4 linked regions of the Homo sapiens genome follow. The protein of the gene in region 4 purifies or fractionates together with the protein of the main gene of each other region. This does not show direct contact. Each region holds a gene or a part of one and is shown on either strand. Other genes may lie near its edges.

Region 1 (4,297 bases), on a different chromosome or scaffold from region 4:
GAGATTTAACTAGACGATATCTGAGGTCCCTTTTGTGTGGGAAATTGAGTATTAAATGTCACACTGAATTTTAAATAGTACTTGCCATTGATAAATTTTAAAAAGGTAATATCACTTGATATGGGCTCCCTATTATTTTTAGTGGATTTTTTTTTTGGATACAGATTTGAAACACTCTTGTCTTCGAAATTATACATTTTTATCTTAATGAGCTCTCTGTTGATATTCTTTTGAAAGGTGAGGGCTTTTCAGTATAAATGAAGTCCAGCAAACTGAGGGTAATGATTCTCTAACACTTCTGAAAAATGTTGTTCAAGATAGAAATATATCTATACTGTCATCTTTGAAAGCAGTATATGTGTGAAAGATGTTTATGTGTGTGAGCAGTTATTGTGCTCACTGATCGCATTGAGTCCATGGAAAAAGAGCTATCATAATGGGCTAGAAATTCTATAGGTGTAGGATTTATAGCCTTCTGAAAGCCTCTTTCAGTAATTGACCACAATATTGTGACAGAATCTACCCTACTCAATAAAGGAATAAATAAGCTTTGAATGCCAAGTCTGACCATGTTGCCAAAGAAAAGCTACCATGTCTGATGGGCAAGTTGTACAAAATGCTGACATTCTCTTTTGGTGCTCATATCATCTTAAGAGCTAAATTCTTCTCCCTATAATAGAGTTTACCAAAATGGCCAAGTCACTGCTCTTACTTGCCAGGCTATGAATTCAGTTAGATTACAAAAATTAATCTGTTCCCCTGTTGCCTTACAGTATATCTTCTCTTTTAAATAACTAATATTTTCTTTTTCTTGTTTTTTCAATCCTGGCAGGCATCAAACAGTGCCTCCTACATCCAGGACGCCTTTCAGCTACTCTTACCTGTGCTAGAGATCTCTCTCATTGAGAACAAGATTGAATCACACAGACATGAGCTGCAGGGCCAGAAACCTTTGTTAGAACATTGAAGAATGGAGACGTTTTGACCTGGGACTTGTGACGGCCAAGGAATGCCACCTTATTCTGGCTACTCCTGCAGAAATGAAGGAGTGGGGTTATTTTAGTATATAAAAATTCAGGCAGGAGAGATGGTTTAAAGAGGAAGATTGTTGCCTTCAGTGTTTGATTGAAGTATTCAGGTTCTCACAGTATTCTTTCCAGTTGTTGTAATTCATAAATTATTTGAAAAGAAACTTTTGTAGAAAGTCCAAGAATAATAACTCTAGATAAAGATTAGTGGGACACTCAGGCAAAAATGTTGGTCTTTCTTTGACATGTTGCAAAATGTTATCAATTTTGTCATGGATATAATTTGCAGCCCATGGATATAACTGGTTGATAAGCCAGAGAAAAATAATTTAGTGTTCTAAAATTCATGGCATGTGTGGTTTATTAATGCCATGTACTTTCTCCTTTCTGGAATAAAATCTATGGCTTTAAGAAAACTGAGCATATGTAAACTCTGTGATGATTACCCTTTATCACATGAATTCTTGGAAATAGAAAGTTTCATCTGCTTTTTTAAATTCTTAGTAGATATTTGGCATTGAGGAGAAACTTGTAGACTATTATAGCCATGTGAATTAACTGTAGCAAAGTGCCCTTTTTCTTCAAATTGCTCCCCCTCCCCAGGATGACACACTTCATGTCATAGCTGAACCCTACTCTACTGGATTCAAGGCCAGTAAATGCAATTTAGAGAAGCAGTTTTATGTTTGCAGATATTCTGAGTCTCTTCAGGATGTGTTTCGTGTCTACCATATATGCAGGATAAATTCTTTAACAGCAAACTCCAAAGGAATGTTGAAGCTGTTTTAGCAATGAGGATTTTTTTGTTTGAGTGTTGAAGTGGGCCATAGTCCTTTAGAAATGATGTTCATTTATGATAGGATTTAACTTCTAAGGCATAGTTTATTTTTTCCTCTTTCCTTTTTGTTTGTTTTAATGTATTCTTTAGCATGTTTTTGATATAACTTTTATCCTCCAGATCTTAAGCTTTCTTTTGCTCTCTTCAGCAATTTAAGAGACTATTAAGCTGTCGTCTTCCTAAAAGCTATTTTGGTATCCACTCTTTTTAAAAAAATTCTCCAACTTTGTGGTTTTTTAATGATTAAGGTAATTTGTTAGCTCTGCCCCTCATCTTCTAAAACCTTTGTAATAAAATGTATTAATCATGTTATTTGATCCTTTCATTTACTTTTGTAAACACGAGCCCTAATATCTTACTTAGACCAAAAAAAAAAAAAAAAAATAGCAAAGCAAAGCCATAACATAGATTAGTATAAAGACTGTTTCTACGTAATCTTCTTTGGGGCAGGAGTCAGTTAGTAAGCAAGGAAGAGAAATAAATTTGGTTTAAAAAGGTATACCAACAGCACTACAATGTTACTCTGCCTATATTCTGTCTTAATATGATCAGAAAGTTTTTGAATATTCCTTTTTAAAGACAAATTTCACCCTTTCCAGCTTGAATATTTCTGAAGTTTCAGAAAAACAGTTGCCTTCTGGTTACAAAGGCTGGTGTCACCAGTTCTGAATTGTTGCCTCAAGCTTGGTTGATGTGTCTGAACCTGTATCCCTTGAGGGCAAAGTTTAGAAACTGGTCACTCTGCCTACTGTCTGTTCAGCCTCTTGTACAATGGCAGTTTGGCAGCTTTAAATCCTTAACCTAGAAATGTATTTAAGGTTTTTCTTTCAAGAAATGGGGTATACATATGAAGGAGAGAGTAACAACTCTTTTTATACACCTATTCAGATTTCAGCCCTGAATTTGGCAAATTTTAGATTAGGTCTCACATAAGGTAAATATGACTCACTAACTCTTTTTTTCTCATCTTCCCCACCCCCCCATATATATTTATTTATTTTAATGGAGTTAGGGACCACTAGTGAAATGATGAAAGGCCCAATTCTGAGTAACAATTGTCTACTCTTCACATAAAATATACTGAAAAAGAATTAAGATTCCTTGATCCAGTAGACATAGAGAAACATAAACATTCATGACAGATGAGTAGGTAAATTCAGGGATCACTTTGGAACTTGCTGGATTATGGTGATGGTTTTTGGATAGTATGTGCTTCATTATTTTATTTGGGGTAGTTACAGTGTTTTAGTTTTTTGTTAACAGCTACACTTTTGGTACTATTTTCCTTTTAAATTTTTGGTGTCTAAGATTTACCACTAATTACTAATATATGCCTTTCCAATTCACTTAAAACCTTAATAAGTGAAATGTTCAGGTATTGCTAGGGTAAATGTGTCTTTTCCTACTATTGAGATTTTAAAAGGCTGTGATTAAGAGAGACTTTATTAATTTGATCTGAAAGAAGTAGAAACCTCTATGAAACAATTTTTATTTTCCTTTGCATAATACCTTAGAAATGTGTTAAGGACAAGCTATATTTTCCTTACTTGCTTTTGATAGTTTTTTTTTTTTTTTTTAAGCATAGATATCCAGGTTGGCAGGCCTCTGAAATGTGAAATTGTAATTTTTATAGATGGCATTACTATGAATCTGAAATCAGTGCTAGGTGTACAAATGTGAATTTTTCAATCCTGTAATCAAAGAACAAGATCTTGTGGGTTCCTACTGCTGAAAAAGGATGCTTTCTTTTGTACTTGTTTTTAGTGAAAGACCTTTTTGAGGGAGAGCTATTTTATAGGTAGTTGCTATTGATATCTCCATTTGAGAAATAGACATTTTTCTGTATTTCTAGAGGTGTTCTGAATTTTAAACCTGAATTCTTCAGTTTAGAAAACCCAGAATAAAATTATACCCACAGTGGGCACTCAACAAGTGTGATATTTCACAAATGTCAGAGACTGAGCTGTTTTATTATCTCTTTGTGTGTGTGTGTGTGTGTGTGTGTGTGTGTGATGGAGTTTCACTCTTGTTGCCCAGGCTGGAGTGCAGTGGCGTGATCTCGGCTCACCGCAACCTCTGCCTCCTGGGTTCAAGTGATTGTCCTGCCTCAGCCTCCCGAGTAGCTGGGATTACAGGTGTGTGCCACCACACCTGGCTAATTTTGTATTTTTAGTAGAGACAGGGTTTTTCCATGTTGGTCAGGCTGGTCTGGAACTTCTGACCTCAGATGATGCCACCTGCCTCGGCCTCCCAAAGTGCTGGGATTACAGGCGTGAGCCACTGTGCCTGGCCCTTTTATTATTTCTTAACAACACATGATATCTCTTTTCATAAAAGACTTAAAAAGCATTTGAGAAATGAGAAAGTTCTAAAAATAATAAGCCTCTTAGTTAACATGTCATAAAGGCCTCTGGCAACTGTATGAAGAGAA
Region 2 (7,034 bases), on a different chromosome or scaffold from region 4:
GAGTCATAATATTTTTGTTAATGGAAGATCTTGTCTCTGTCTTGGTGGCTGCTGACTGATCAGGGTGGTGGTTGCAGAACATTGGGGTGGCTTGGCAGTTTCTTAGGACAACAGTGAAGTTTGCCTCATTGATTGGCTCTTCCTTCTAGGAAATATTTTGTTGTAACATGCGATGTATGATAGCATTTTACTCACAGTAGAACTTCTTTCAAAATTACATTCAGTTCTCTCAAACCCTGGTGCTGCCGTATCAACTGAGTTTATGTAGTATTCTAAATCCTTTGTTGTCATTTCAATAATGTTCACAGCATCTTCACCAGAAGTAGATTTCATCTCAACAAACCACTTTCTTTGTTCATCTATAAGAAGCAACTTCTCATCTGTTCAAGTTTTATCATGAGATTGCAGCAATTCAGTCACATCTTCAGGCTCTACATCCGATTGTAGTTCTCTTGCTATTTCCTCCACATCTGCAGCGACTTCCTCCACTGATGTCTTTTGTTGTTTATTATTTCAATCCTGCTCCTCCTATAACCACAGAAGTCTTGAATCCCTCAGAGTCATCCATGAGGACTGGATTCCAAACTCTTGTTAATGTTGATATTTTGACCTCCTCCCATGAATCACAGACGTTCTTAACAGCTTCTAGAATGTGTATCCTTTCCAGAAGGTTTTGAATTTAGTTTGCCCATATCCATCAGAGGAATCACAGTCTATGGCAGCTATAGCCTTAGGGAATTTATTTCTTTTTTTTTTTTTTTTTTTTGAGATGGAGTCTAGCTCTGTTACCAGGCTCGAGTGCAGTCGTACGATCTTGGCTCACTGCAACCTCTGACACCCTGGTTCAAGCAATTCTCCTGCCTCAGCCTCCCAGGTGGCTGGGATTACAGGCACATGCCACCACACCCAGCTAATTTTTGTATTTTCAGTAGAGATGGGGTTTCACTATGTTGGCCAGACTGGTCTCGAGCTCCTGACCTTGTGATCTGCCTGCCTCGGCCTCCCAAAGTGCTGGGATTACAGGTGTGAGCCACCGGGTCCAGCCAGGAAATTTGTTTCTTAAATAATATGACTTGAAAGTTGAAAGTTCTTGATCTAGTTGATCTATTAGCTGCAGAATGGATATTGTGTTAGCAGGCATGGAAACAATATTAATCTCCTTGTGTATCTAATGGACCTCTTGAATGACTAGGTCCATTGTCAATGAACAGTAATATTTTAAAAGGAAACTTTTCTGAGCAGTAGATCTTAGTAGAAGTCTTATTTAGTATACTATACTGTAAACAGATGTGCTGTCTTTCAGGCTTTGTTGTTCCTTTTATAGAGCACAGGCAGAGTAGATTTAGCATCATTCTGAAGGGCCCTAGGATTTTCAGAATGGTTAGTGAGCATTGGCTGCAACTTCATGTCACCAGCTGCATTCTCTAACAAGATAATCAGCCTGCCCTTTGAAGCTAGGCATTTACTTCTCCCTAGCAGTGAAAATCTGATATGGAATATTATTCCAATGGAAGGCTGTACGTACTGAAAATCTGTTGTGTAGTGTAGCTACTTTCAGCCGTTATCTAAGTTAGATCTTTTGGATAACTTGTTGCAGCTTCTCCATCAACATTTGCTGCTTCACCTTGTGCTTTTCCGCTATGGAGACAACGTCTTTCCATAAACTCATGAACCACCCTCTGCTAGCTTTCAACTTTTCTTCTAAAACTTCCTCACCTCTCTCGGCCTTCATAGAATTGCAGAGACTTAGGGCCTTGCTCTGGATTAGTCTTTGGCTTAGGGAATGTGGCTGGTTTGAACTTCTGTCCATAAAACTCAGACTTTGTGTATATCAGCAATAGGCTGTCTTGCTTTCTTATCATTTGTTTATTCACTGGAGTAACAATTTTCTCAAGAACTTTTTATTTGTGTTCACAACTTAGCTAATGTTTGGCACAAGAAGCCTAGCTTCTGGTCTGTCTTGGCTTTCAACATGACTTCCTCACTAAGGTTAGTCATTTCTTGGTTTTGATTTAAAGTGAGAGATGCTCAACTCTTCCTTTCACTTGAACACTTAGAGGCCGTTGTAGAGTTCTTAATTGGTCTAATTTAAATATCATTGTGTCTCAGGAAATAGGGAGGCCTAAGGAGAGGGACAGAGATAGGAAGAACAGCTAGCCAGTGGAGCAGTTAGAACGACACCATATTTATCAATCAAGTTTGCCATCTTATACAGCATGGTTTGTGGTACCTCCAAAACAATTAAAGTAGTAACATCAAAAATCACTGATCATAGATCACCGTAACACATATAATAATAATGAAAGGATATGAAATATTGTGAGAATTACCAAAATGTGACACACAGACATGAAGTGAGCATGTGCTGCTGGAAAAAGGGCACCAATAAACTTGCCTGACGCAGTGTTGCCACAGACCTTCAATTTGTGAAAGACACATTATCTTTGAAGCACAGTAAAGTGAATCACAATTAAGGTATACCTGTATTCACCTGTCCCTCATGCTCCATGACTTCTCAGCAAGACTTCCTCCAAGTCATCTTTCTCTAATGCCGATAACTGGACTTTCCCCTCCTTTACTCTTTCTTTTTTAACCTACTACTGCTTTGTACGTTCTCTGCATTACTGAGTTTCTCAAGTGAGTTGAAGGCAGGGTGTTTAGTGGCAAGTGGTATTTTGGAGGTAGGAGTGAGAAAAAAACACAAGGCTAGTGATGGCAGTTTTCTCCTCACTTTCTTTGGTTCCTCTTCCAACTAAAAAGAAAAGCAAATAAGAGAAAGGGTGCACATTAAAAAGGGATACCGGCCGGGCGTGGTGGCTCACGCCTGTAATCCCAGCACTTTGGGAGGCTGAGACGGGTGGGTCACTTGAGGTCAGGAGTTCGATAGCAGTCTGGCCAACATGGTGAAATGCCGTCTCTACTAAAAATACAAAAATTAGCCGGGTGTGGTGGCATACGCCTGTAGTCCCAGTTACTCGGGAGGCTGAGGTGGGAGAATTTCTTCAACCCAGGAGGCAGAAGTTGCAGTGAGCCAAGATCGCGCCATTGCACTCCAGCCTGGGCAACACAGCGAGACTCTGTCTTAAAGAAAAAAAAAAAAAAAGGTACCATCACCACTTACTTGGGACTTGTGGTGTGTGAATTTCAAGTGTTCTTTCTCATATAGGGAAACCAGGTCCCTATTCATCAGTACCTGAGATGAAATACTCAGCATAGCCCAGCTGGGTATTTCACTTAAATGAAGATGAAGCCAACTTTAGCTGAAGCAACTTTGTTGTCCTTTATCAAGACTGAGTAAGGGTGGGGGAAAATAAAATATTTTTTGACCGAGGAAGCTTTTTATCTCCTGAACATTTTCAGAGACATCTACTTGGACTTGAGAAGGCTGCTAGATTTCTCCAGGCTATAAGTCCTGTCAATCTCCTATATATAAGATAGAGATGTTTTCTTTTACCCTAGTGTTTATCTCCACAAGTTCCTTCCCCACGATAGGCTTAGGGTAGGGGCCTCACTATTCACCTGCCTGGTAAGAACTAAAAGACCCAAGTCTTCAATTCTAGCCGTGATGTAAGAAACAGGAATAGTTTTACCTAAAATTTTGTCAGTCCTGCTAATTTAAAATTTAGGCTTTTTGCTAGTTAGTGTTAAAGGATATTGTAGGTTAAGAAGGTTTTTGTCAGCTTCCTGGAGATCTAACCTCAGTATAATATTGTATAACATCATTTCTGTGAGTAAATATTTGTTAACTCTCAATAAGTGGAGTTTTATAAACTCAATGATATTTAAGGTGCAGGGTATTTAGTCTAAAAATTTACGTATAGTTTGTGCACTAGGGCTACTAAATCTAATTCACACAAAAGCACCACATTGCAGAATCCTAAGGAACAATCAAAGGTGGAATCAGTAGAGGAAGGTGTTATTAGGTGGTGTGAATTTGAGGAAGAAAAAGGAGGAAGAAGGGATTAAAAAAAAGCTTTTTATTAAAGGAATAAAGAATCGAGCATCATCTCGATGAAGGATTGTCAAGATTCTTAAAGCTGAACATGTGCTAAAGTATAACAACTGGTGGATTGGTCTGAGCATCTAGGTAATTTGTGGGTGGATTAGTCTTTGCTGGTTAATCGTCCTGTTGAGGCTTTTACATGCTACAGAGTAGCTGTTAGGTGTGTCACTGCAGTAAAATCTGATTGCATTATTGTCTAGGTTATAAGTTTGTTGCTGAGATCATTGAATGCTGTGGTAGCAAACGTCTCATAAGAGCATGAAATGGTTTTTAGCAGCAGCCTCGAAGCTACTGGATGTATATAGAATAATGGAAAGACTGGTGGATATTCATACATTAGATATTTGAGGATATATTGTGAGCAAGGACTTGTTGTCACCTAGAGGCAAGATTTTTTAGCAGAAACATGACTAATAAATCACTACACAAACTGCTGTGGAAGCATATGTTAAGTCCCACAGGGAGCTCAAATGAAGGAGTCAGTAGGGGAAGCTTTTACAGAGGACTTACATTTAAGCTAGATTTTTACAGGCAGTTTTCTAGGCAAAGTAGGGAAAAGAAGGACATTTCCAGTCAGAGTTAAAAGCATATTAGGAATGAAACACCAATGGTTGTTTGGGGGAACTAAGAAGATACTGGTCTGCTAGAGTGAGTATACTGAGAGCAAGTGGTAAGGATTGGAAGAAGATAAGATTGGAACATCTGGTGTTTTGAGATTAGATTGGAAATATTTTATCCTCTGAACCAGGATTCCTTGTAGGCCGATTGTTTTGTTTTGCTTGGCCATGTATATTGTACTTCTTAAAAACAATCTGAAAATTTCAAATGATGGAGAATAATATGAAGTGAAAAGTAAAAGTTTTTTTCTGCTTTCCTAAACCTCTGTTATCACTCCTCAAAGGTTACCGGTTAATATTTTGTTGTCTTCTTTCATAAAATGTTGTATGCAGACACAGTATATTTGTCTTTTTTATCATACTTTTTAAAAAAAGTTTTAGGGGGTAATCTTTTTAATTTTTAAAATTATGTTGTTGTTAGAATCATACTTTAGATGTAGTCTGTGTTTTGCTTTTTTCACTTAACACTATAAATCAGGAGACTGTTTTAAAAAGATAACTGGCTTCAGTATAGAGTATAGCATGGTAAGCATTTATTCAATAAATTACTTATGGCAGGCATAGTGTCTGCTAAGCTTTTCCTCGACCCTGAGGATACAGTGATGGGTATCATTTAGGAAGCCATTTCCGTAGTGCACGTGAATGTTAATGGAGTCCCAAAAGGTAATGGGAATGGATGTAAGAACTGTATTGAGATAAAATTGATAAAAATAGCCCATCAATTGTCTGTGGGAAATGAGAAATCAGAATATATTTAGGATGATTTCAAGGTTTACAATTCAGGAATTCAGTAAAACACATTAGGGAAATAGGTGTGTTTATTTGTATATATCTGTGTATCTTTGTTTTGGGGAGGGGGAGGGTTCGTGATATGAAGGAGTTCATTTTGAACATAGTGTTTTTGAAGGATGTTCAAGTTATTGAGGTGAAAATTTCTGATAGGCAGAGGAAATAAAGTTCAGAGCTCAGGAGAGGTAAGAAGTAGAGTTGGAAATTTTTTCTTTTTTTGCTTTTCTTTGTGTGTGTGTGTGTGTGTGTGTGTGTGTGTGTGTGTGTATTTGTAATAGCTAAATCCTTGGGAATGAGTACAATTGCCCAGGGAGAAGAGGGCTCGAGGATAAATTAGCAAAGGAGACTGAGCAGTGGTCATAGAGGAACGACAAGAATCGAGAATATCACTTTCGGAGCCAAAGGATGAGAGGGTTTCAAAGGAGTGGTCAGCGGTGTCCCATAATACAAATGGGTCAGATGGGGAAGCACTGGAAAGAGGCTATTGGATTTGTTGACTACATGTTCAATGTAACCTTAGAGGTTTCAGGAGCTATCATAAGATGGAAAGATTCATTTGGAGGAGGCAGGGCAGTAAACAAGAAAAGGTGGGCAGTGGTTAATCAGAAGCAGGTGAGTTTATTTATAGCTTTTCTTTTAGCTTGGGCAGTTCTGAGTATGAACTTTATTTTTCCGGAGGCCTCTTAGCCAAAATGTGATAGACAACATAGGAGTAAGCTTCTGAGAAGTTAAGACACATGTCACAAATTCAGGGTAGCATAGCCCATATACCAGTCCACACACATTGATTTCTCTGGTTTCTCAGGCCGTACTGGTTAGAAACAACAGAAGAGGGGTGTGTGTGTGTGTGTGTGTGTGTGTGTGTGTGTGTGTGTGTGTGTGATGAGAGGCAAGCATGCTGACAGCCTCAAGAAGTAAATAGCACATAACCTTTCAGTGAGGGAAGAAGAGACCAGAACACACACACACAGGCAGAAGAAATGATGAAGATTTACTTAGCCTAGTAGAGTGTCCATTTACTGCTGAGGCAAAAAAAACCTCAGGAACTGCATATACTTAAAGTACCCTCTGCCCACCAGGTGCCTTTCTCCTAGTGAGTTCTTTCCTACTTTTTGCAGTGTTAATTCCTGCTCTCCCTTCAGTTATGGGCTCAATTGTCTTTCCCTCAGGAGAACCATTAGTGACTCAGGCCCCTTTGTTATATGAGGCTTCACAACTGTGTTTACTGTCTTTGCAGCAGTTATCTCCGTGTGCAATTCTGAGCTCATTTGCGTGGTTATTTAATTGTGTATCTCCACTTAACTCTGGGCCGTTTGTTTACAATGGGCCCAGAGTACATAAGTGGTATTCAAAATAAATGTGCCAAGGCATATTTAAATGAATCTGAATGCACCTCTTTTCAGCTGTCATCCTGTGCCTCCTCCATCTACAAAGCCATTAATATAAAAGAGACCAATATTTCCTATAAACTTCCCTATATCTGTACCAACATTATTAAAATATTCCTAGACAATTTGACAATCAAGGTGTTAACTCCACATGCTGATCAATAGAACAGAAAACCATCTGGGTGCTCATGCAACCCATTTTCTCCCTGCTTTCCCTCTCCATTCCTCCTCTCTCCC
Region 3 (7,098 bases), on a different chromosome or scaffold from region 4:
CTTCGCAGTTAAACGACAACAAAAAAGCTCAGAGTATCTCTTTATATATGCCAATGTCTGTAGTTAATGCTCCCTTTACTTCTTTTTTCTTGGTGAGGGCAATTGTTTTCTACGTTTACAAGAGATAGATGTTATTACCACTATAAGTTATTGCATGCTCTATGGTCTGGTTTTACAATTAAGTTGAACTTATGAGGGAAAAACTAAATCTATTCGGATTTGGATTAGTTAATTTAGAGCCAGGATTATATATTTGACTACTTGGTACAATGGTGGGTATGCTGTCACAGCCCAGAATATTTAACCACAATAAATGTGCTAGTGAACTGGTTTAGAAGTTACCTAGATTGATGGATCTCATTTGCTAGCCTATATTATTCAACACCAATGGAAATTAGAATTCATTTGTAAAGGGATCTCATTTACTTAACTTCAATCTTAAAAAACTGTCTTTTTTTAGTTAGTTATATGTTTTTTCTCAAGTTTGTTTTTCTTTTTTAAACACAATATTCCTTTGAGGGGGAGTTAAAAGATGTAACTTTCTCTGGCAGCAGGCTGAATAGAAAACCCACTATCATCAATTTTCTTTCCAATAAAAGATGATTCTCAGAGTGGGAGTGATAATGCTCCCCAGTCTAACCTCAGTGTTGATGAGATTTTCAAATGCTACTAAATGAAGCAGAGTCTACATTAGGATGGAGCAAATTTTAATTGGTGACAAAAATTAGACCATTATATGTGATGATAGCCAAACAAGGAAAAAAGAGAAGTTTAAAATCAAACAAAAGGATTATTTAAGGGCATGTTTCCATAAAGTGGAAGATTGTAGCCCTTTTCAAAATATGTCAAGGGAAAAAGAAGCAGTCCCTGTACTGCTCCACTCCCAATTGCATGTACCTGAGGAGCTCCAGAACCACTTGGAAAAGGATTAAGCAGCAACTCAAATGGTTGCCTCATTCAGTTTTTCTCAAACTTTTAAGAAAACGGTTGACACAATATTTTAAGAATCTGCTGAAAATAATGTCTTCTCTCTATAAAAGTACATGAACACAAAATCTTCATATAATTTCAGAAGGCTTAAGATTCTTTGAAGCCCATCGGTGGATCCAGAGGACTCAGATTAAGAATGATATGGGTCTCAGGGGCATGATTTATGCTTTAAATCATGCAGTCCAGAACACTGGCCAAGCAAAATCAACTAGTAGTACAACTGCAATGGAATTGTTACCAATATTAACCACTGCATAGCTATAGTTTTCTGGATTTCAAAGTGCTTTCTCACAGATGAACAATTTGATGTATCAGCCCAGATGGCCAGCTAGGTAGATTAGGTGAGAGAAAGGGAGTAACGTTGAGTACCTATTCTGTGATGTGATGCTTATTAATGTCTGATATCCTACTATAACTGTTTTCAATAAATAAAAATGTTCCCTCAAAAAATATAAATACCCTTCACTGGTGAACATTGAGTACTTATTAGAGCCCTTCTAATAAAAAACAAAATACTTAGATTTTGAAGGCATTAAGGCAGACACCTAGATCTACATTTCTCAAAGTTTTTCTGGGGGTGGTGGGGGGTTAGCGGGGTGTCACTAAGACTATTTCAGGAAAGTACATGAGGTTCTCCCTTTGCCAATTTATATATTACATGAGTCTAGATTTTCTTCATATACTTCAACCAAAACAACATATTGCAACAGATTGGATGCAGAAGCAGATATGAGAATCCAGCTGTCTTCTATTAAACCAGCCATTAGGGAGATTTATAAAAGTGCAAAAACAAAGCCACTCTTCTTAACTTTTTGTGTTTGTTTTGGAAAGCAGAGTTATGTAAACTTGTAATGCATGTTTTATTTTAAATGAATTTAAAATAAATTCTTTTTTTTCTATTTTAATTTCTAAATGCTAAATATCAATAGCTATGACCCACATAAATAAAAGTTCTTTGGTGTCCTCACCAAATTGTAAGTGTTATGGGGGGTCCAGATACCCAAAAGTTTGATAACCTGGCAAGTCTGAGAAGACACATCTGGGTGGATGAGCAAGTGTAGGGGTGGGAGGGGTGTGACAGGAACTGATGAGGGCACTGTGTGTCTCGTGTTCGGGACAGGATTCCTTGAATGGTACTAAAAGTGGACAGGGGAGGATGCAGTCCAGTCTACTCCTTCACTCTGCTTGTGGCCTGTTCTTAACACAGCTCTCATGGAAGCGCAATTTAGAGAAAGCAATCTTAAGAAACAAGAAAGTAGAGTTTAGAATCCCAAAATTAGGAAAGACAACTGCAATTTGTTTAGTGAAAAACACTGAAGTTGCTTCTTTCCAACAAGAATGGAAAACATTTTTGGAGTGCTGGTTGCTTTTTTTACCAGATGATATAAGATTTGTTAATTATTAGATTTTTGTAATACTTATTAATACATTTTTCTCTTATCTTTTGGAATAGCATTTCCTGGTTTTAAAAAAAAAAACTTAAAAGGGGGCAAATCGGCAGGAGACTGAGGAAAAGCCTAAATGTATTCCCCAGAAAGTATGTTTTAAATTTTAACATTTACTTACTGAGAGGTGAGGCCAGCTGAACTTCCTGGGTCCAGTGGGGACTTGAGGAACTTTCCTGTCTTACAAGAGGATTGTAAAATGCACCAATCAGCGCTCTGTAAAATGCACCAATCAGCACTCTGTAAAACGCACCAATCAGCAGGATTCCAAAAGTAGCCAATCGCAGGGAGGATTGAAAGAGGGGCACTCCGATAGGACAGAAATGGAACATGGGAGGGGACCACAAGGGAATAAAAGCTGGCCACCACCAGCCAGCACCTGGGGTTCTCTTCCATGCTGTGGAAGCTGTCCTTTTGCTCTTCGCAATAAACCTTGCTACCGCTCACTCTTTGAGTCCGTGCCATCTTTAAGAGCTGTTAACAGTCACCGGGAAGGTCTGCAGCTTCATTCTTGAAGTCAGGGAGACCACGAACCCCCTGGCAGGCACCAACTCCGACACATTACTAGGCGCTAAGCATTGTGCTAGAGAGTTTGCTGTGGTATAGGGGCAACAATCTTTACTTTGGAATGAGAAAAACTGTTTCAAACAACTTACTTGCCATGAGTAATTTAATTTCTCTCTTTTCTATAAAACATGGGTAATATTTATCTCACAAGGATGTTTGGGATTAAAAAGTGACAACCTATGTCAATAGGACAGCATGATGCAGTGTAGGTCTTCAATGAATAGCATGGAGAGTGCTTGCAAAGGGCAACGATAAAATCTAATATAAATAAGACGTTGTAGACAAACGCTTTAAAAACACAGGGGGTAAGGTCTGATGTGCCAGCGTCACTACAGACGTACTTAGAAAAGTGTTCTGGGGATCTAAGTAAAGGAGGACTCCCATTTGCTGGGAGTGAGAAAAGAGCTTTAGGGAAACTGCAGCGTGATGGGCGAATCCTCCTTTCAATATATCTACCCTGAAAGTCGGCTCCAGCCCTGCCGAACATCCTGGCCCAGCTGCACCCGACCCAGCGTGAGATGTCAAATGACCTCTTGGCGCTTCCACGCCAGACTGGAGGGGCTCTGCACAAGCCTTGCCCGACTCATTCCGGGCACCTTGAGCGTGGGAGTCCACACTGCCCCTTGACCGACCAGCTGCCAGGTTGGCCGCACTAACTTGAGCCCACCCCCACTCGAAGCTCCGCGCCGACAGCAAGTGGAGACTTGGGGGTACCGGATAGAGGAAGGAACTCCCAAGTTGTCAGCTTCAGACCATCCACGCCTCCCCCAACACGGAACCACCTTCAGCCTCCCAGCTGGTATCCCACCCCCCCTCCCCCCACCCGCTGGGCCAGAGCCCAGCCCTCGGACAGCGACCGTGCTCCTCCACACACCCCGCGCTCCAGCCCCTGGGCATCCAGCAGCCGGCGTTCGCACGCTCTGTCATCGATTGGCGCTGCCTTGCTCCTTGGGCTCCCGTCGCGTGGAAATCGGCCCGAAACTTGGAAAGTCCAGCGGAGCGCGGGGAGGGAACCGAGGCAGGCGGGCCAGGGGATTGCCGATCGCACGGATGGGCGCGCGCTCAGTCTGGCGAGTGGCGGCGCCGGCTAGCCCGAGCGGCGCGAGGCCGGAGTCCGGCGTCCGCCACCCTCTCGTCTCGCGCTGGCGCGCGAGCTCCTTGCCCTTGCCCCCAGGAGGGCCGCCCCGCGTGGGGCTCTCGCACCGCCCGGGGTGGGAGCAGGCGAGCCGGAGGGAGGAGGGAGGAGGGAGCGCGCGCGGGCGGCGGCGGCCCCTCCCTTCCCCCTCCCGCAGCCGCGGAGAGCGCAGGGAGCAGCCGGTGGCTCGGCGGCGGCGGCGGCGGCGGCGGCGGCGTCGGCGTCGTCTACCTCCAGCTTCTCCTCCCTCCTCCTCCGTCTCCTCCTCTCTCTCTCCATCTGCTGTGGTTATGGCCTGTCGCTGGAGCACAAAAGAGTCTCCGCGGTGGAGGTCTGCGTTGCTCTTGCTTTTCCTCGCTGGGGTGTACGGTAAGTGTCCGCGTCCCCGCGCCCCGCTGACCGAACAAAGCTGAGGCGACCCGGGCCCCGAGGCCTCCAGGACGGGGGTTCCCCTGGAGACTCCCGCGGAGACCCTGGCTACCGGCGGGACAAAGACCGGTGAGGGGGTGGATGTGGCGGAACGGGTGTCCCCACACGGAGATGCTTTTCTCCACTCGTCCACCTCCAGACCCTCGGGTGGTGGAGAGGGGCTGGGGGGCCCGGCCGGGAGGGCCCCGGCGGAGCGAGGGGGTGGCGGGCGGACTTCCCGACCTGGGTTCGAGGGCCCCCGCGGCCAGTTGCTCCAGGACCCGTAGCCTGGCACAATCCACACACAAAGATGCTTGACTGTGAGAAAGCAGAGGAGCTCGCCCCCGCCGCTGCCGGGACGGTCCTTCCCCCCGCCCCCTCAACCCGGGGTTAGGAAGTTCTCTCACCGGCGAGATTCCCACCGCGCCAGCCCTTGTCCTACTCGATTCCCTGAAAAGGCTTCCCGCTGACTTCTCCCCACTCCACCTCGGGGGCAAGGGCTCTGCCGAATCCGGGCGTGCAGGGTCCTGTTGGTTCCCCGGGAGCAGCACGCGGGAGAAGGCCAGAAAATAGTTTCCAGCCCCACCTCAGTCTCTCCTGTTAGGGTGTACACATCTGTCCTGACTCCTAGTTCAATTGTAATTTCATCCATCCTCGTCCGCCGCTGTGGTCACTGTTACTTTATTCCAGTCGATGGATCGGGTTAGAGATAACTCCTTTCGGGTTAAGAGAAGGCTGAAGACTGTGCGGACAGCTTTATATTGCGTTGGGGTCTGAGCAAGAGCTGAATGGAATTAATTGCAAAGAACATCTATCTCTTAAGATAATTAAGTTACACTTCTGACTTCACCGTTCTTAGTTCATCAGTTAAACACACTGAATAGGTATTTCAGAGAGCTCAGTTTTAACCTTTCCTTTTTGGAGTGTTGCTCTGATTTCTCCAGAAAAAGAATTAGAAGATATCATTACTTTGGTAAATTTTACTTATAAAAAGTCTAATTCATTTGCCACAAACATTGATTTGACTAGTATAATGGTGGTGGTGGTGAGGTTTAGTCAACAGCCAATTTGTCAGCAAGTGTTATCTCTTTTGAAGGCATTTATCTACGGAATTGAATGTGATGGTGGCTTTTGAAACCTGGCAAGTGACGCTAAATGAAGAATTAATGAACGTAATTGGGCATTTACTGACAGCCAAGAAATTCTTTTTGGTACAATTAAGGATGTGTTGCTCCCGTACCTGATTAGTAGTATTTTTGTTTGTTTTGGTGAGGAGAGTAGTTTGGTCCATTTTTTATGTAGGGGTAATTGCCAGAGGTGTGCTTGTGTGGGACCAAAAACCCAGTACACGACTTTTGATTGTTAGCTGCATCAAGTGGCTGTAATCCCTGCTTGCCTGATGACTTGTGGGTTTGGGTCTACACCAGAGATCAATAAGCTATTACGTTGTTTCTTCTGCCCTGAAGGTGGGTATAGTTCTGCTCTAGGTTTGGTGTAATGGCCCAGGAGAGAGAAGAAATTGAGAGGTATCTTTAATTTAGGGTGATTAGGATTGTCCAGCTTTGTCCTCTACTATAATAAGCATTGAATTTCTGTGATGTCCGATCAGAATAGATAAATAAATGGGCTCTTCTTTCATTAAAACCTGTGTCATCAGTGTTTGAACTAGAAGTCTTTTGCCTCGAGGGATAAGAGGCTGTGAACCCCTCAATTTGTTTTGGTGCATTCTTTAGTACTTGTACACAAAGTGACTTTCTGGTAGGTGCCTATCAAAGCTTTTATCTTTTTGGAATTTGTGTTCAGTGAGGAACACAAATTGTTAGTAAGCAAAGACTGAAACTCCTTTTTCCAACAGTGTGGGCCGCAGATTATAAAACCAGCAGGTGATTATGCCAAAGGTTGATGTCTCAAGCCACAGCAGGTTTCAAAGTGTAAAAAAAAAAAGGAGGTAGTGAACCAGGCAGAACATTAAACTATATCAGCAGAGATTAAAGGGAACCCTTCACCCTGGAACTGAGAAATCCTCTTTATGGCTGCATGTTTTTTGTCCTCTTCTGTCTCTAACCATATGTGGGTTTATAATAGTGAAAAAGGGCTGTAACAATAGTATGGGGTGGATGTGGTTCTATAACAATAGTGGGAATTGAGTAACTTAGAATATATAGTAGTTGTAATGGGTGGTGGATGCATCCTGAGAAATAGCTGTCGCCTTGAGCCTGTTAGAACAGATACTAGCTGTAATTTATGAAACTGTCCTCTATACAGTAAAAAGTGTGTGTGTGTTTTAAAAGGCTTCAAAAATAATTAGCTCTGTTAATGAAACTGAATATTCACAATCACTGTTAACAAAGAAAAGCAGGTTGATTGGCCAATATTTAGGGAACTCCAATATTAATTCTTCACAGAGTGACTCTTAAATGAAATGACTCTAAGGTGTGCTTCAGATTTTTGAAACATTTCACATACATAAAAAAATTTTTTGTTGTTTATTTTGGTGCTACTTTCCAGATGACGATTTTATGGGCTCTGATATGTGACTGTTGTACTTCCAAA
Region 4 (7,197 bases):
GTGGAAGAGGACAGGCTGCATGTCCAGGCTCTCAGCAGCCTGAATCAATCTCTTTTGAACAAATTGGAGTCTCTGGCAGAGGTATCAACTCATCAGTAAGGCAGACATCAGTGTCCACACACCCTGTTCCTGATGGGGATTGGGAGCCTCTCCTGCCATGTCTGTGCCTTCTCCATGGCCCCAGCTTCCATAGGGTGGTCCCTGGTGCTGGTTCCAGGAGCATCAACCCCTTCCTATGTGGATGGAGCCTGGTGGTGGCATCAGCATCCCACCCTTGCTGATCCCACGGTAGCCAACCTTCTCCTTGTTTGGTTTCTTTAATTAATTGATTAATTAATTTATTTTTGAGACAGTCACTTTTTCACCCAGGCTGGAGTGCAGTGGTGTTGTCTTGGCTCACTGCAACCTCTGCCTCCCCGGTTCAAGTGATTATCTTGCCTCAGCCTCCCCAGTCGTTGGATTACTCGTGCCCACCACCACACCTGGCTATCCTTGTTTGGTTTCCTAGCTTGTCCTTGACCTGGGTTCCTGTGTCGGTTTCCTGTTGCTGCTGCAGAAAATTATCACAAACATGGCAGCAGGAGAGAACACACTGACCCCTTCCACTTCTGGGGACAGAAATTGGATCCAGTTCTCCCTGTGCTGAAATCAAGGCATCTGCAGGGCTGCGTTCCCTCTGGAGACTCAGCAAATCAGTTCTCTTGACTTCTCCAGCCCTTAGAGGCCACCTGCATTCTGTGACTAGTGGCCTTCCTCCACCTTCAAAGCCCACAGTGGCTGATAGCGTCTCCCTCCCACTACACTGCTCTAATCCCCACTCCCCTCTTCCTCCACCTCTCACGCGGACCCTTGTGATTACACTGAGCCCAGCAGGACAGTCCAGGCTGTCTCCCCATCTCAAGGTCAACTCATCAACAACCTGAGCTCCACCTTCCCCTTCAGTCCCCTGCCCTATAACATAAATAGTCACAGGCTCCAGGGTTTACAATGTAGCCATCATTGGCGACAGTTATTCTTCCCACCACAGCACCCATTTCCCCTGTATTCAATCTCCCTTGACCCCAAATACAGTTGGGGCCTGGGTGATGGGACCCTGATGGACACCCCCACCAGAAGCTCTGGGATTCAGGAGGTGGGACAGTGAGAAGCCCAGACAGAAAGCCTCTGACCTGTGACCATGATCACCAGGGGGTTGCTGGGTGCCGACCACCCAGTGAGGGAGTGTGGGCGTGAACCCCGACATCTGTAGGTCCCTGCATGTGCTGGGGTCACAGGGCCCATGATGAAGCTCTCCTGGAATATTCTGCCGTGGAAGATGGGAACGTGGCTTCTGTCTTCTTTGTACAGCATGAAATTGTTAAACCCACGACGATAGTGACACTGAAGAGCCACGTGTCCTCCTCGAGGCACCACAGTGCTGGGCCGGGCAGACAGGAAGGGTTTGTCCTGACCACCTGGGGGAGAAGGAGGCACTGCCTTAGAGAGGAGGATGTGGAGCCACCCCTCCCTCCCTGTGCTCAGAAGATTCTCCCATTTCCGCTTTCTAAGGCTCCTACCACACCTGGGTGCCCAGGGCTACAGGAAGGACCCACCCCACATAGACATGGCGTCTCCCTACAACAAGTGTCAGCTGAGAACTTTGAGCAAGTGCTGAATAAGTGACTCTTACTAGATTTTAATACTGCAAAATTACTCACATAAAACAACACAAAGTAGACACGGCATGGAGGGCATGTCCTATGTGAATGGAATATCAGCCAATTCATGAACTGAGCCCCCTCAGAGGATTTGGAATGTCAGGGCCATGGCTGTGGTTTCCCCCCTCTTCTGGTAGAAAGACCGCAGCCACACTGCAGCCCCTACCGTCACGGAAACGCTGGAGGGTGTCAGTTATACCTTTGTCCTCAGAGGACCTGCTGTTCCTAGCACTGCTTCCCTCTCTTTCTCTGCTGCTGACACCACTTCCTCCCTGCACACCCCAGCTTGGAGCACCCCAGTCTCACCCCAGTCTTCACAGAGCTTGACTCAGGAAAGGGAAAGAAAGGCCAGGGAGGGCGAGGTCAGAAATGTGGGCCGAGTATCCAAGGGTCCCCTCTTCCTAGTTTATGAGAGACTCCCCGACAGGACTTCCCTCCTGTTTCAGAAAAATCCTCTTATGTGGGGAGATGACACCCTAAGGTTTGGGGACGGACTCACCCATGAGTGGCCAGGCCCCCTGCAGCAAGAAGAACCCTGGAAAGAAAGATCATGATAGACGATCCAACTGCAGGCAAACCAGGGCACCCTGCTGCCCCCACTGCACTGTGTGTCTTGGCAGCCAGGCCCTTGCTGGGCTGAAGGTAAACTTAGCCTCCCTGCTACCTGCTGCCAAGAACAGGGCTCTCAGCTGTGGAGAGACCCAGGCTCCAGGCCCAGATCAACACTTCCTGGCCCAGATCTCCACTCCAGGCCCATATCTCCACTCCAGGCCCCTATCTCCACTCCAGGCCCATATCTCCACTCCAGGCCCATATCTCCACATCAGACCCATATCTCCACTCCAGGCCCAGATCTCCCCTCTAGGCCCATATCTCCACTCCAGGCCCATATCTCCACTCCAGGCCCATATCTCCACATCAGACCCATATCTCCACTCCAGGCCCATATCTCCACTCCAGGCCCAGATCTCCACCTGCAGGCCCATATCTCCACTCCAGGCCCATATCTCCACTCCAGGCCCGTATCTCCACTCCAGGCCCATATCTCCACACCCAGGCCCATATCTCCCCTCCAGGCCCATATCTCCACTCCAGGCCCATATTTACACCTCCAGGCCCATATCTCCACACCCAGGCCCATATCTCCACTCCAGGCCCATATCTCCACTCCAGGCCCATATCTTTACCTCTAGGCCGAGATCTCCATCCCCACTCTCCCTCCCTCTATTCCCTTCCAGGACTCACCAACGCACGCCATGCTGACGACCGTGAGCGACATGGTGCTGCCGGTGCAGACAGGAGGCCGCGCCCCAGCTCAGCTCAGCAGCGCACAGGATGTTATTTGGCGCCCTGCCCATGCAGTTTACATGTTGACCACATCATGGGAGGGTGACGTACGCAGGCTCTTTCTACCTTGCATGAGGCCCAGTGGGTGCTCGCTCAAGAGCGGAACATGGCTTCCTGGAAATTGTTGTGACTACAATTGCCACCTTGCATCCTTCACTATGACCAGACTCAAAAGACGTCTCAGATCCAACCTCTCACACATGAGGTGATTGAATTCTGTGCTTACATTAAAGACTTTTGATGTATTTTTGTTTTTATCTGAGATTCAAACTTTTCTTCATGTGTAATGTGCAAAATATCTAAGAGGTATTATTAACATTATCAGAGTAATTGTGACAAAAAGCCATTCTAATTTTCCTGATGAGTTTCTAGTACTAAACCTGAGGCACGAGAATTGCTTGAACCTGGGAGGCGGAGGCTGCAGTGAGCTGAGCTCAAGCCACTGAACTCCAGCTTGGGTGACAGAGGAAGAGTCTGTCTCAAGAAAGAAAAAAAAAAGCAAACTAAATAACCTATAATAACAAATCAGAGAACTCAGGTTACCAAATTTTAAGGGGTTCTATAAGTTTATATGAAATGCAGCATCCTCATGAGAGGGGATACAGAGAACCACTGGGCAGAAAACTGTGTCTAAAATACATCTGTGGATACACAGTCCCTTTATAGTTGACAAAGGCTGCCATGTAGTTTAAGGTGGAATAGAATATTTTCTCAACAAATAACACAGGACCATAGGGTTACACGTAGGAAAAAATAAATCTAAACTTATCCTCACACTATAAAGACACTTCTTATTTTTTATCTTGTTGTTGTAAACTTTTTATGCTTTATTTTTAAGATTGACAAATAAAAATTATATACTGTGGTCCTTCACTATTCCTGGGTGATTGGTTCCAGGATCCCCATTCAGATACCAAAATCTGCAGATGCTCAAGCCCCTTGCATGAAATGGCATAGCGAAGCTGGGCACCGTGGCTCACGCCTGTAATCCCAGCACTTTGGGAGGCTGAGTTGGGTAGATCACGAGGTCAGGAGTTCAAGACCAGCTGGTCCAACATTCTGAAACCCCGTCTCTACTAAAAATACACACACAAAAAAATTTATCTGTGCATGGTGGCACGTGCCTGTAATCCTAGGGGAGGCTACTGGGGAGGCTGAGGGAAGACAATCGCTTGAACCTGGGAGGCGGAGGTTGCAGTGAGCTGAGATCATGCCACTGCACTCCAGCCTGGGTGAGAGAGTGAGACTGTCTCAAAAAAAAAAAAAAAATAGCATAGCAATTGCATAGAACCCATGCACATCCTCCTGTATACATGAAATCATCCCTTGATTACTTATAATTCCTGACACAGCCTACACGCCACTCAATTTGTGTCGATTCAACATAGTTTTTTGCTTCTTGAAACTTCGGGGATTTTTTTCTGAAAATATTTTTGATTTATTGTTGGTTCAATAAACACCTGTAAACCCCACAGATATGGAGGACCGACTGTATATTTATATTATGAAAGATGATATGTTGATATGTGTCCCCGTGGAGATGAGACTAACAAGGCCTATGACTCTACAAATGTTTCATCGTGGAATGACTCTGCCAGCTTTCCAGGTCTGCAGAGAGTAAGAATATCACTTGTTCATGTGATTCACGATCCTTGGAGCCTCCTATGTGCTGTATCTTTGGATGGAAATTGGAGTCTCAGAGACAAATCAGGCTCCATTCTGCTTCCAGAAGCTCAGAGTCCAGGGCTGAGAACCCAATGGAGAACAGATGGGGTTATGTGGACATGGTAATGATAACACCGGAAGCCTTAGGCAAGAAAAGAGTCTCGTTACCGAAACCATGAGGGCAGACATGTTTATTTGAAGGCGGGAAAACTACATTGAAATTATTTAAAAAATTTATAAGTTTTACTGCTGGCAGAAGGCTGAAAGATAGTCTGAAGGGAGGTGGAACAGCACGTGTCTAAGTGCTGTGTTAAGAGGCAGCCTCTTGTATGTTTGGAATTGTGAGTTCCTCAGTGTGATTGCAGCCTCAGGTAGACTAGGAAGTAAGCCAGTTAGGTTGGAGAGGTGGGCAGGGGTCAAGTGAAATGGAGAATTGTGGGCTAAGCAAAGGAGTGTGTTTTCTCTCCAGCAGGCAGTGGGGACCTTAGACATTTGTAAGCAAGAGAGAGGCATGTTCAGATTCGTGGTGTGAGGAAGAGCGATGCCCTAAGATGAAGACTGATGCCTTCAGATTCCAGCTGCTGGTACATGGGAGCTGGCAACCCGGTTTTGAGACAGGGCTGTTGTCTCCCTAGAAGATCCCCTCAAGGCCTGACTGTGGTGCTCGTGGACAGAAGACAACTTTGGATCTGGGCTCAGCATTTGGAAGTTCTATGTACATGCTGGTATCTGTTGGGGGTGTCTTGGGCCTCTCAGAAGGGCGAGTGATTTTTCTCTGTGTGAAAACACAGTGATCCAATTATGCGTATGACACCTCCTGATGGTCTTGTTCATCAGAATCCTGGAGAGAGGGAAATGCTGAGTGAGGGAGGGTGCTCACATTTTTCAGGACTCTTTGGGAATAAGACTAGCCACGAGGCTGGGCGGAGGAGCACCTACCTCGCTGTTCACTGTTCTGTTCCCTGCAGGCTCTTGGTCCATTACAGCAGCATCTGTAGAAGACGGAAGTCAACAAAAGAGCTCGGAGGGCACTTCTGGGTCCTCATTTCATAAGCAGATACCAACAAACAGGGGGAGGCCATAGGTGCCTGAGGTCCCTCAGTTGCCAACAGCAGACTCAGACATTCTATCTCTCTGAGTTCAAGGACCCATCCCATGAATAGCTCTGAGGTCCCATCCCATTGATTCTATCTCCCACTTTCTGCCTGTCATGGAACCTTCTCCTGGATGTGAGTGGCTGCAGGGGACGTGAGGATACAGTTCAGAATCAGGCAATGGTCTGTGAGCTGAAGGCAGGGGAAGGGAATCTGGTGCTCTCTCTAGAAAGTCCTGCCTCTGTGGCTCCTGTCTTGGGCCAGGGACCATCCTGCTGGTGAGGAACACACATCCGCGTGCTCCCATCCTGCTTCCCCACATGGCCCTGAGCTCTCTGGCCTCTGCTTCGTGAGACTTACTTTTTTTGTCGGAGCACCAGCGATGAAGGAGAAAGAAGAGGAGGATGGTGAAAGGGATTTTGACCACTGAGGTCCCAATCAGAACATGTAGGTGTCTGGGGTTACCTGGAAGAAGAGGAGACACCAATAAGAAGCTAATCATAGCAGTTCCTCTTTATGAATTGTCTCGCATTTCTTGATTGGCAGGTAACCACATACAACGTCTCTTTAGGACAAGCACCCAAATGGCGGGAGACCTAGCTTTCCCCTGCTTTCTCAATTATAGCTCTCATAGTAACCATAGAACGTGCTGAGGATACAACTACTTTAGTTGAGATGTTTGACCCTTTCAAACCTCACATTGAAATTTCACCCCCATTGTGGGAGGTTGGGCCTCTTCAGAGGTGTTTGGGTCATGGAGGTGGATCCATCATGAACAGATCAATGCTGTCCCAAGGAGACGGGGTTAGCAAGTTCCCCCTCTGTTAGTTCCTGGAGAGCTGGTTGTTAAAAAGAGCTTGGAAGCTCCATCGCTCCCTCTCCCCCTTACTCTCTCTCTTGCCGTGTGATCTCTGCGGTCTCTGCACAGACAGACCCTCCTTCCCTTCTGCCAGAGTGGGAGCAGCCTGAGGCCGTCACGAGAAATAGATTCTGGTGCCATGCTTCCAGTACAGCCTGCAGAACTGTGAGGCAAACCAATCTCTTTTCTTTAGAAGTTACCCAGGCTCAAGTGTTCCTTTAGAGCAACAAAAATGGACTAAGATAGCAACATCCTGAGATCAGGAGGAATGTCTCAGAACAGCCTGGGCTGTCTTCCTGTTCTTCCTGGAGGAGGACGTCATGCAGTGCTTTAGCTGAGTGCTTCCTGTGGCTCCAGGGTACAAAACCCAGGCTGGGCTGCTTTCTGGCTTCCCGCAGCTACACTGCAAATGGGGTGACTCCATATGTCCCGAGCAGCTTTTCTGAGCCTTGAGGGACTGGCTCACATTGAAATGCAGGCTTCTGTTGTCACTCGCTGCTTATCTGTTAGTAATGAACCTGCCTATGTAACGTAT

The links.
Region 1: the proteins of KIR3DL2 (region 4) and FAM114A2 purify together in Homo sapiens (affinity purification with mass spectrometry; 2 studies listed by BioGRID and IntAct, with this or other methods). This does not show direct contact.
Region 2: the proteins of KIR3DL2 (region 4) and FBXO38 purify together in Homo sapiens (affinity purification with mass spectrometry; 2 studies listed by BioGRID and IntAct, with this or other methods). This does not show direct contact.
Region 3: the proteins of KIR3DL2 (region 4) and LRP12 purify together in Homo sapiens (affinity purification with mass spectrometry; 2 studies listed by BioGRID and IntAct, with this or other methods). This does not show direct contact.

Annotation. Positions count from the first base shown.
Region 1 is NC_000005.10:153,989,646-153,993,942, reverse strand, and holds the end of FAM114A2 (protein FAM114A2), read left to right. Parts: intron 1-832; coding exon 833-967; 3' UTR 968-3,795; downstream 3,796-4,297.
Region 2 is NC_000005.10:148,386,945-148,393,978, forward strand, and holds part of FBXO38 (F-box only protein 38), read left to right. Parts: intron 1-7,034. UniProt on the Homo sapiens protein: Substrate recognition component of a SCF (SKP1-CUL1-F-box protein) E3 ubiquitin-protein ligase complex which mediates the ubiquitination and subsequent proteasomal degradation of PDCD1/PD-1, thereby regulating T-cells-mediated immunity.
Region 3 is NC_000008.11:104,586,227-104,593,324, reverse strand, and holds the start of LRP12 (low-density lipoprotein receptor-related protein 12 isoform a precursor), read left to right. Parts: upstream 1-4,066; 5' UTR 4,067-4,427; coding exon 4,428-4,506; intron 4,507-7,098. UniProt on the Homo sapiens protein: Probable receptor, which may be involved in the internalization of lipophilic molecules and/or signal transduction. May act as a tumor suppressor.
Region 4 is NC_000019.10:54,846,255-54,853,451, reverse strand, and holds the start of KIR3DL2 (killer cell immunoglobulin-like receptor 3DL2 isoform 1 precursor), read right to left. Parts: upstream 3,010-7,197; 5' UTR 2,977-3,009; coding exon 2,943-2,976; intron 2,233-2,942; coding exon 2,197-2,232; intron 1,455-2,196; coding exon 1,170-1,454; intron 1-1,169. Other genes in the region: KIR2DS4 (killer cell immunoglobulin-like receptor 2DS4 isoform 2 precursor), read right to left, coding at 6,242-6,268. UniProt on the Homo sapiens protein: Receptor on natural killer (NK) cells and T cells for MHC class I molecules. Upon binding of peptide-free HLA-F open conformer, negatively regulates NK and T cell effector functions. Acts as a receptor on astrocytes for HLA-F.